3 linked regions of the Homo sapiens genome follow. The protein of the gene in region 2 interacts with the protein of the main gene of each other region in a pairwise test. Each region holds a gene or a part of one and is shown on either strand. Other genes may lie near its edges. The genes, in order: MORN4, RHOQ and BANP.

Region 1 (3,649 bases), on a different chromosome or scaffold from region 2:
CCAAAAAAAAAGTCCCCTCTGATTAATAAGTAACCTAGAGTCTGACCCTCAGGCATCTGACTGAGTTCCAACAGGACAAGGACACATTCTCCTCAGAGTACTGGGGCCAGACCTGGTGGAGAAACAGGAAAGAATTCTTTTTTCTTTTAGAGACAGGGTCTCATTATGTTACCCAGGCTGGACTTGAACTCCTAGGTTCAAGAGATCCTCCAATCCCCTCTTAGACTTCTGAGTAGCTGGAACTACAGGTGCATGCCACTGCTCCCAGCTCAAAACAAGACGGGATTCTTTTTTTTTTTTTTTCTTTTTTTGAGACAGAGTCTCACTCTGTTGCCCAGGCTGGAGTGCAGTGGCATGATCTCGGCTGACTGCAAGCTCTGCCTCCCGGGTTCATGCCATTCTCCTGCCTCAGCCTCCCGAGTAGCTGGGACTACAGGTGCCCACCACGACGCCCCACTAACTTTTTGTATTTTTTAGTAGAGATGGAGTTTCACCGTGTTAGCCAGGATGGTCTCAATCTCCTGACCTCGTGATCCGCCCGCCTTGGCCTCCCAAAGTGCTGGGATTACAGGCATGAGCCACCGTGCCTGGCCGCAAGATGGGATTCTTAAATCTCGGGGGCCTGGCGCCAACAGCTAGCTTCCTTTTCCTTCAAGTCCCAGGGAAGCCAAAACCTCATCCAGTCAAGATGGAGTTCCAAAGAGTGGGTTCCATAGTTTCATAGCACAAAAGGGGTCTGGTATATTTTATGCAAAAGTGATGCTTTAAATGTTCAACTAAAACAACCCATATGTTAAATTTGCTTTCTCCACATTGTCATGGTGGACAGTGCTAGATTATTTATATTTCAATTCAGGTGGCACAACCCTCTCTAATAATCAATTGCACTAACCCCAGAGAAGCTGTCTGAAATACCTTTATAACAGAAGCTAACATTTACTGACCTCTTACTGTGTTCCATCAGTGTTGTTTATTTGTTTTGTTTTAAGAGATGGGGTCTCACTCAGTTACCCAGCCTGGAATGCAGTAGTGTGATTGTGATTAGAGCTCACTGCAGTCTCAAACTTCTGGGCTAAAGTGATCCTCCCGCTTCATCCTCTCCAGTAGCTGGGACTAGAGGTGTGTGCCAACACACCCAGCTACTTTTCAAATTTTTTGTTGAGATGGGTATCGCTATGGTGCCTAGACTGGTCCCGAACTCCTGGCCTCAAGTGATTCTTCCTCATCAGCTTCCCAAGTAGCTGGGATTACTGGTGTGAGCATCAGTGTTTTTTGTTTTGTTTTGTTTTTGAGACGGAGTTTCACTGTTATTCTTCCCCAGGCTGGAGTGCAATGGCGCGATCTTTGCTCACTCCAACCTCCGCCTCAGCCTCCCAAGTAGCTGGGATTACAGGCATGCGCCACCACGCCTGGCTAATTTTGTATTTTCAGTAGAGATGGGGTTTCACCATGTTGGTCAGGTGACCTCAGGTGATCCTGACCTCAGGTGATCCACCTGCCGCGGCCTCCCAAAGTGCTAAGAATACAGGCGTGAGTCACCGCACACGGCATGAGCATCAGTGTTTTTAAAATATATTATCTAATTTCATCTCACAACAACTTTTTGGGGTGGGTATTATTATTATTTCCACTTTAGGGATGAGGAAACTAAGGTGCAGAGAGGATAAGTAAATTAACTAAGGTCATACATGTGGAAACTAACACGTGAAAGTTAGAATCAGAGCTCTGACAGCTGGCCTTGCTGGCACAAGTTCTTACAGTAACTTGCTAACTTATACCATACTATCCTATCTGGCCTCCCAGGATAATATGGTGGTGTTGTAGACTCTGAGCACAGGAGGACTTGAGTTCAAATATGAGTTCACTGTATAATTATGGGCAAGGTATTTAAGTATCTCTAAATCTCAGTCTCCTCATCTGTAAAGTGGAGATAAGATATGTATTTCACATAGTTGGCAGGTGGATTAAATTAAATATCTGAGAGTCAGTGGGTGACAGAAAAGAAAAATAAAAGAAAGAAAATGACACACACGTAAGTACCTAGAACACTGCTAGGGCCTGTCCACTAAATGTTAGTTTCTTTCCTCTTTCAAAGTTTTACACTTAAACTCACACATATACTTACTGTAATGAAAACTTCTCTAGGTCTTTCCTCAGTAAAAACTGCTACCAATGTAATTCAAACAACACTTTGAAAAAGAAAATCTCAGCAATTTTGACTAAAGAGCTGAATACTAAGTAGAGGAAAAACAAACTATAGTTGCCACCCATCCACTCTTTATCAACATCCTACAGGATATTTTTATTTTGGCCTCATGTCATAACGATTTTTTGTTTTTTAAGGAGACAGTGTGTCGCTCTGTTGCCCATGCTGGTGTGCAATCGCTTGATCATAACTCACTGCAACCCTGAACTTGTGGGCTCAAGCAACCCTTCTGCCCCAGCCTCCCAAGTAGCTAGGACTATAGGCACACACCACCATGCCCAACTAACTTTTTTGTAGAGACCGTGTCCCACTATGTTGCCCAGGCTAATCTCAAACTCCTAGCCTCAAGCAATCTCTGGCCTTGGCCTCCGAAAGTGCTAGGATTATAAGCATGAGCCACCACACCCAGCCTCATGCCTTTTTTTTTTTTTTTTTTAAAGAGAACAAGCGGGCTGGGCACAGTGGCTCACGCCTGTAATCCCAGCACTTTGGGAGGCTAAGATGGATCACCTGAGGTCAGGAGTTCGAGACCAGCCTGGCCAACATGGTGAAGCCCTGTCTTTACTAAAAACACAAAAATTAGCCAGGCGTGGTGGCACATGCCTGTAGTCCCAGCTACTTGAGAGGCTGAGACAGGAGAATCACTTGAATCTGGGAGGTGGAGGTTGCAGTGAGCCAAGATCATGCCACTGGTCTCCAGCCTGGGTGACAGAGCGAGACTCTGACTCAAAAATAATAATAATAATAATCATAATCATAATCATAATCATAATCATAATCATAATATGTTCTGATGCTTGTTCTCTCTCTTTTTTTTTTTTTCTTGAAACGGAGTCTTGCTCTGTGGCCCAGACTGGAGTGCAGTGGTGCAATGTCGGCTCACTGCAACCTCCACCTCCCGAGTTCAAGTAATTCTCCTGCCTCAGCCTCTCGAATAGCTGGGATTTCAGGTGACCGTCACCATGGCTGGCTAATTTTTGTATTTTTAGTAGAGACAGGGCTTCACCATGTTGGTCAGGCTGGTCTCGAACTCCTGACCTCAGGTGAGCCACCCATCTCAGCCTTCCAAAGTGCTGGGATTACAGGCATGAGCCACTGTGCCCAGATTTTTTTTTTTTTTTTTTTTTAGACAGAGTTTCATTCCTGTGGCCCAGGCTGGAGTGCAATGGTGCAGTCTCAGCTCACTGTAACCTCTGCCTCCCAGGTTCAAGCGATTCTCTTGCCCCAGCCTCCCAAGTAGCTGGGATTACAGGCCCCTGCCACCACGCCCAGCTAATTTTGTATTTTCAGTAGAGACAGGGTTTTACCATGTTGGCCAGGCTGGTCTTGAACTCCTGACCTCAGGTGATCCTCCCGCCTTGGCCTCCCAAAGTGCTGGGATTACAGGCATGAGTCACTGTGCCCGGCCTGATTTTTGTTTGTTTGTTTGTTTAATGGAGACTG
Region 2 (3,649 bases):
AGGTGGCAGAGGAAGTTTTGCGCCATATTTAGAGAATATTCAGATGAAGGAGGGACAAACAGTTTTGCAGAGGTAGGCTTCCCCTGAATAAGAAAATCCTTGAAGGGAGAAAGGAAAGGCCTGAGGTAGCCCCCATGGGACACAAACGACACCCGTCATTTGCAGGCTAAAGCTGGCCCGCCTGGCAGCCCCCCAAACAGCATTTCCCTGTCCCTCTCTTCTGGGAAGGGGCCACAGCTTTAGGCAAATGGCATGAGCTTCTTCCACACGTACTTGAGCAATGGGGCCATCAGCGCCACCTCGGGCCTGCTCCTTTTTGAGGAAGCATGGTGGTTTAGGGACAAAGTGACAAAACACCCGTAACGTCACGTGGGGCAGAAGTCTTTGTAGGAGCCGTTTTAGCAGCCGTCCCTACGTGTTCCACCTATACACAATGTTCCACCATCTCTTCTAGCTAGAAAAGCGATACGCTTGGAATGTACCTTTTACATGAAACGCTGAACAACAGTGCATGTGATAAAAGAGGCATTTAACATGGGCCAGATGATTAGGGAGAGTGACTTAACATCAAGAACCCAGGGCTTAAAGTCCGACAGCCTGCCTGGTGATCTCGGCTTTGCCTTTTACCAACCGTGTGGCCTGGAGCGAGTCATTTAACCTCCCCAGATCTGCAAAATGAGACAGCCACCACTGGCTTCCTTTACTCACAGAGCAGGTGAGGGAACTCAAGGCGGTACCAGGTGCGACATGCTTTATGTGCTGTAAAAATGTCATTTGATGATGAGCCTGCCACTTTTAAGCCCCTCAGTCTACCCTGAGCCTGAGTAGAGCAGGAAAATCTAGGGATCTGGAGAGGCGGCTGCTTCAGTGCTCTCACCATTCACTCAAAAAGGAACAGAGACAGCAATAAAGACCCCTTTCCCCACATTCTTTTCTTTCTATTAAAATCAACCAGCAACACAGCACCAGATTAATATCTCTTTAATTACCAAGTTGTCAGTCACCAGGTGAAAAACTCCATAATTTAGTTATCAACCCTGCTCCACATGTTGACACTGATAGCAGGGATCTGGGGTCCATAAAAAGACGCTTTGGGGTCACCCCCTCTGCCGTTCCTCCCTACACTATTCTTCCCACTCAGAATATGAGCTCTCCACACCCCTCTGCCTGCTGGAACTCATTTAGGTCAATGCTTCCCAAATCTTCACCTCATGGCACACAGAGAAAATGAGATGATGTGTTCAGCACACATCGGGTGGAGTAGAGGAGCCACTGCTGCATGCCTGAGGTGAGACTGCTCAAGCTAGGACAACCTGAGCCATGGCTTGTCCCAGGCCCTACCCAGCTGCCCTGAGGGCTGAGGAAATCCCTTATCTGGGAGCTGGGAAGCTCCAACATATCTAACAACCCCACAAGGAGGTACTATCATAATCTCCATCTGACAGATAAGGAAACAGGTTTCCGAAGGTTAAGCCCCTTGCTGGGAAGTGGCAGAGCTGAAGTTGGGCCCTGGGAGTCCAGTGTGGGGGTCCACACTGGCAACCAGTACTCTACTGGCCCCCATCTCTTCCTGCAAGCCTAGATCTTCCAAAAAGCTCCTCCCTGTCACCTCTTCCTGTGTGGGACCCTGCAGCACTCAATTTCACACGATGAACTTGCCCAGTTGTGTAGTGGACCTTTCTGTGGCCCGATCCCCCACCTTCTCCTGTGGAAGGTGGGAACACACACCAGGCATTGAATCAACACCAACCGAACTGAGCCAGTGTGAAGCCCCCAGAGCTAGCCTGGGCCCGCACTCTCAGCACCAAGCCCTACAGGGTAACGACATACATCATTTCTAATCCTTACAGCTATGCTGCAGGGTATAAATTATCTCCACACTTCACACAGAAGGAAGAGAGGCTCACAGAAGTGAGCCGGCTGGCCGATGTCTCACAGCTACAAAGAGGTAGAACTAGGATTCGAAGTTCATCTGGAGGCTCCAAAACCCACACTCTTTCCACTGCCAACCTGTCTCCTCCTCAGGGGATCTGGGAGCAAGAGGTCTCAGGAAACATGCAAAGGCCGGAGTCTGAGACAGAGTGTTGGGGGACAGACAGACCCACTGGTGATCACTAAGGCCCCTGGGCCTGTGTAAAGACAAAACTGATGGCCTGCCCCATACCTATGTGCCTGTTTCTCCTTTGAACCTTAAAGACTTCTACTGTATTAGTGAAGCTTTCCTGGAAAAGGGGTTGTGCTGATGCTATTATTTAGCAGCTATGACTTTAGTCCTTGGTTAACCTTTTAGCAGAAACAAGCTGACAGTCAAATGAGAATCAATTCTTTTTTTTTTTTTTTAAATAAACACGGTCTCGCTCTAATGCCTAGGCTGGAGTGCAATGAAGCCTTGTATTATAGCTCACTGCAGCTTTGAATTCCTGCACTCAAGTGATCCTCCCACCTCAGCCTCCTGAGTAGCTGGGACTACAGAGGCATGCATTACCACATCTGGCTAATTAAAAAAAAAAATTTAGTAGAATTGGGGGTCTTGTTGTGTTGTCCAGGCTCGTCTTGAACTCCTGACCTCAAATGATCCTCCAGCCTTGGCCTCCCAAAGTACTGAGATTACAGACAAGAACATGCCACCCTGCCTGGCCATGAATCCCCTTAAGATGTATTTGTTGCATGCCTACAAGGTAGCAGGCACTGGGCTGAGCACTGCAACATGGTAGAGAAAGACACTGTTCTTGAAGAGAGCAAGAACGCATCCAGGAGGTCCTGGCCGGCACTGGGCAGGAGAGCGTTCTACCCAGGGAGCCGGGGGACCCCTGAGAGCTCAGACAGCCCAGCCTCCGTACATGCAAAGCAGCTGTGCTCAGAAACCAAAAGAGGAATGACAAATTGCTGAGGGCAAGGAAAGCTGCTCTCTGACCCAAGTGTGCCAAATTAGGGCAAAGCCAAGCCTGTCAGAGAGAAAGGAAATACAGCTGAGAATCAGGAATTTTAATTTTTAAGAGCCACACATGGTCTTCCATCTTGTTTCTTTGTAACTGCGTCCCTCTCCTGCTGAAGCATTGCTGTTGTGTCTGAGGCCTCTGTAGCACCCACAGCTGCCAACACATGTGCTCTTTCTGGAAACGGACACCCCCGTGGAGAGCTACTTTGTTGGCTTTGTTTTCATACCATTAGATCTAATCTCTTGAAACCCCAAACTGCACAACAAAACCGCAAAAGCCCAATTCTCCATGGGGCCTCTGACCCCGAGGGGCTTAAAGCAATGCTTCCCACCTTTTTCACATCACAGCACCCACAGCAACTGACAATACATGCTCAACCCCCTTAGGCTGTCACTCCCCCGGCCCCTCAGAGATGAGAGCTTGGCATCTCAGCACACCTGTAACACTCATGCTTGAGATACCTGCGGGGAAGCTGTCGTTCAAAGCGTGGGAATGTCACCAAACCTCAGGAGAATCATGATGGAAGTGGAGAAGCCAAACAGATCAAAGGTCCAGGATGGGGATGGGGCACAGATTATGTGCCCGATTATGAGGCATAATTGTAGACCAACGAGAGCTGGTGGGGACTGCCCCCACCCTAAAGTCCCTGCCTGCCAGCCCACAGTCTAAGCTGGCATAACCCAAACCCACATCAGAGTCCCAAGGAGGGG
Region 3 (3,649 bases), on a different chromosome or scaffold from region 2:
CAGATTACATACTCTTCTGAGTAGTAGCATGATGAAGTCTGGTCGTCCTGCTCTGTCCAGCCCGGGACGTGAGTCGTTCCTTTGTCCAGCATGTCCAAGCTGTGTGGCACATATGGGCGGGAAAAAGCATAGCATATATGGGGTTCAGCACCATCCACAGTTTCTGGCGTCCACGTGGTGGGGGTAGGGGGTGCTTCTTGAAACCCTCATGGATGAGGGGGACTACTGTGAACCAAAAGCTTAATTTAAAGAAGTGACCACAGACTATATTGCACTATTCAGGATTTAGTTATCTTTTTGAATTGTAAACAGATAATCAAGAACAAACATTCCGGAAGATGTTTCTTGTTTCCTTTGCTTTTGATTTTCTTCTGATGCTTCTTGGTGTCTTTTCTTGCTGCGGATCCCACAGGGACACCTCCACATCGCCCAGGTGCCGCAGGGGGAGCAAGTCCAGATCACGCAGGACAGCGAGGTGAGTCAGCTCTCGCTGCAGCACTGTCCCTGCAGGCACCGTGCCCACATGCTCCCGACCTTCATCGGTGTCACAGTGCGAGGGCAGCAGGGAGCCCCCAGGACAGGGAACGTGGGCAAGGGCTGCAGGACTCCGCTTCCAGGGTGCACATAGCGGGCCTGCAGTCTCTGTGGCCTCTCTGCCTCCCCCTCCTGTCCGTTGGTCTCCACAGCTTCTGGTCTGTCTTGGTAAAGATCTCCTGGGTAGATGTTTCTACTGCTGGCTGGAAGTGCCCTCTGAGTACCCTTCTCTCCCTGTCTGGCCCTGCCCTTCCTGCCAGGGGAGGCCCCCAGTGTGGCCGAGATGGGGTCTGCCCCTGCGTAGGTGACCTGACATACCCCCTCACCTGCCATGTGGCCCCAGCTTCCTAGTGGCCTCTACGGGATTAGTGCCGATTTCATGGGATGGTGGGGAATCCCACAAGGTGATGCTGCCAGTCCTGAGAGCTGCTCATAGCCCTTGACGCACCTGCTGGGTCTGTGATTGTCTCAGTTTCTGGAGCTCTACCCGGCCACGCACTCAGAAGTGCGGGCTCAGCTGCTGTTGGGGTCTGGAATGTGAAGGCGGCAGTGACAGTCTGAGTTCTTGGAAAGCCGAGGCCAGCCTGTTGCGATGCTCCATGTTTGCATGCCAGAGCAGGACTGTCTCCCGGGTGACCGTCCTTCGACTCTGGGCTGTTTCCTGCAGCACAGGCAGCAGCAGGCACAGGGCACTAAGCAGCACACACGTGTTGTACTCAGTGACCGTGGTGCGCTCTGGGGGATGAGGAACATGGCTGTTTCTAGGTCGTGACAATGGCACCAGCTTTGTGTTTGGTGCATAGTAGTGTGTCGCTGCAAAGATCTCAGGCTTCCCCACACACACCAGCAGCAGAGACTAGGAAGCCCGGGTGCTGAGGTCAAGGGGACTCATGGAGATGTTGGCGTGCGAGGCCTCCTGGGAGCTCATGCTGGGTGCAGGTGCTGTGGGGGAGCAGAGGAGAGAGAAGCCCTGCCATCGGGGACTCACAGCGGGCGCAGAGCCTCCTGCCCAAGTGCCCGTGAGCAAGACTGTGGACACATGCACGCCGTGGCACGTGGAGCACCAGGGACTCGGGCGTGTCTGCTGGCAGTGGCTTTAATTTGGACACCAGCAGTTCCCGGTGGGTTATCCTGAGAGGGGAGCACATGCGTAAGGGTTCTGAGGGCGGAATGAGGATGAGGTGAAAGGGGAGGAACGAATTCATGTGGGGGCCGTGAGCGACTGGGAATGAGTGGGCTCATCCACACAGCGACATGACCAGGTCACTAAGAAACGTGGTCAGATGGATGGATGGAAGGAAGCAGCAGGGCGGGGAGCAGGTAGGGGACGGTCCCAGGAGGCCAGAGTGTCCAGGAAGGAGCAGGGCCTTCCCTGTTCTGTGTCTGTGGGTGGGTCAGGGACCATCTCCTTGGAGATGTCAGGAGATGCGCCTGTCAGCTCAGCGAGGTCAGGTGCAGGAGTTGGGGGCCTGAGTGGCTGCGAGGTGCAGGATCCCAGCAGCACCTTCCAGTGCAGGAGCTGCCTTTGAGGGGCAGGGGAAGGTTTGCTTCTCAAGGCACAGACAGATGTGGGCTGGGAGGCTAAGCTCACTGCCAAAGAGCTCAGCCAGAGTTCTTGAATACCTGGAAGCCTATGAAGTTCGTCAGAATGCTTAATTTCCTTAGAGTCATTGAAAATGCAGGAAAATTGAAACAGCAGCAAAAGAAAAAAAACAACACACATTTGCTTTTTATAGTTTATGCTAAAAAAATCTTGACTACTCGAATTTCAATTTTTTATTATTAGTTTTATCCATCAGTTTTCAAAACTGAATCCATCTTGTATAGGTGATTGTCTTTCGTTTTCAATAGGAATTGAATGCAGTAAGTTAGAAATTGCTAATAATACTAACGATGGCTTTGTGATGAGTGACAGTATGCAGTCTCGTCACCATACATTCATACCGTGTTCATTTAAAATTATTTTGTTAAAACAGGATATCTGCAAATAAACATTTAGCAGGGTCTGACAGACAACACAGTTCCTTTTTACAACAAATGAAAATGAATTTCTAACTGGAGAGCTCTTAGTAGCTCTGTGGTTGAGTGAGTTGGTTCCTTGCGTGCAGCCCGTGACCTGGCGTGGTGATGCCGCACAGCTCAGCAAGGCGTCCCCCTTCGGGGAAGCTGGGCGACACACACATAGGACGTCTCTCTGCTACTTTCTGTACTTTTTGTGAGTCAGATTCTTTCAAAATAAAAAATGAAGTAAAAATGACATTTTCATTTGGGGTCAGGGTAGGGGAATGAGTACAATGCTTTTTGAGTTGTTTGTTCATCTTTAAAATAATAAATAGTACCTAGAAATGTCAATATTTTGTTTTGGGGCTTTTGTTGCTACTGGAGGTTGAATTTTTGCAGAACTGGGGTTTTCTTGTTATTCTCAAGTGGCCTGTGATGTGTCTTGGCGTGTTTGCCGTGTCTGAGGGTGTCTTGGTGTGTTTCTACTCATGACCGTCTCCTCCTCTCGTTCTTTGTAGGGCAACCTCCAGATCCATCACGTGGGGCAGGACGGTCAGGTGAGTGTCCCAGTCCCCATGCACATGCGGGCGTTGCGCTGCCGAGGGATGGGGTTCTCAGGGGAGGGGGTGGGACGGTCAGGTGAGTGCCCTGGTCCCCATGTACATGTGGGCATTGCGCTGCCGAGGGGTGGGGCTCTCACGGGAGGGGTGGGACGGTCATTGTGGGCATTGCGCTGCCGAGGGGTGGGGCTCTCATGGGAAGGGGGCGGATGGTCAGGTGAGTGCCACAGTCCCCCTCTCACATACAGGCCATGGTGCTGCCAAGGAATGGGGGCTCTCGCGGGAGGGAGCGAGGGTGCAAAGGCCTCTCAGTGTGAGCCCCAGAGCAGGACTGGCTTTCCTCACCATGACAATGCACAGGCCTGGAAGGGGGGAGGGCAGGGCTTGGGGGTTACATTTGCTGCTCCGTAGGATTTCAGCAGCTTTTGCGCTATGGCGGAAACGTGCCCTCCCACCCCCGCCACCCCACCCCCTTCAGATGGTTATTTTCTGCACACGCATGCGTATGTTGATGGTGGTCATGTTTGCACAGATAACTCTGTTAGAAAAAGGTG

Evidence for each region.
Region 1: the proteins of RHOQ (region 2) and MORN4 interact in binary tests that used the Homo sapiens proteins (3 or more experiments, as listed by UniProt).
Region 3: the proteins of RHOQ (region 2) and BANP interact in binary tests that used the Homo sapiens proteins (3 or more experiments, as listed by UniProt).

What each region holds. Positions count from the first base shown.
Region 1 is NC_000010.11:97,623,443-97,627,091, forward strand, and holds part of MORN4 (MORN repeat-containing protein 4), read right to left. Parts: intron 1-3,649. UniProt on the Homo sapiens protein: Plays a role in promoting axonal degeneration following neuronal injury by toxic insult or trauma.
Region 2 is NC_000002.12:46,548,931-46,552,579, reverse strand, and holds part of RHOQ (rho-related GTP-binding protein RhoQ), read right to left. Parts: intron 1-3,649. UniProt on the Homo sapiens protein: Plasma membrane-associated small GTPase which cycles between an active GTP-bound and an inactive GDP-bound state. In active state binds to a variety of effector proteins to regulate cellular responses. Involved in epithelial cell polarization processes.
Region 3 is NC_000016.10:88,034,920-88,038,568, forward strand, and holds part of BANP (protein BANP), read left to right. Parts: intron 1-403; coding exon 404-475; intron 476-3,053; coding exon 3,054-3,092; intron 3,093-3,649. UniProt on the Homo sapiens protein: Controls V(D)J recombination during T-cell development by repressing T-cell receptor (TCR) beta enhancer function. Binds to scaffold/matrix attachment region beta (S/MARbeta), an ATC-rich DNA sequence located upstream of the TCR beta enhancer.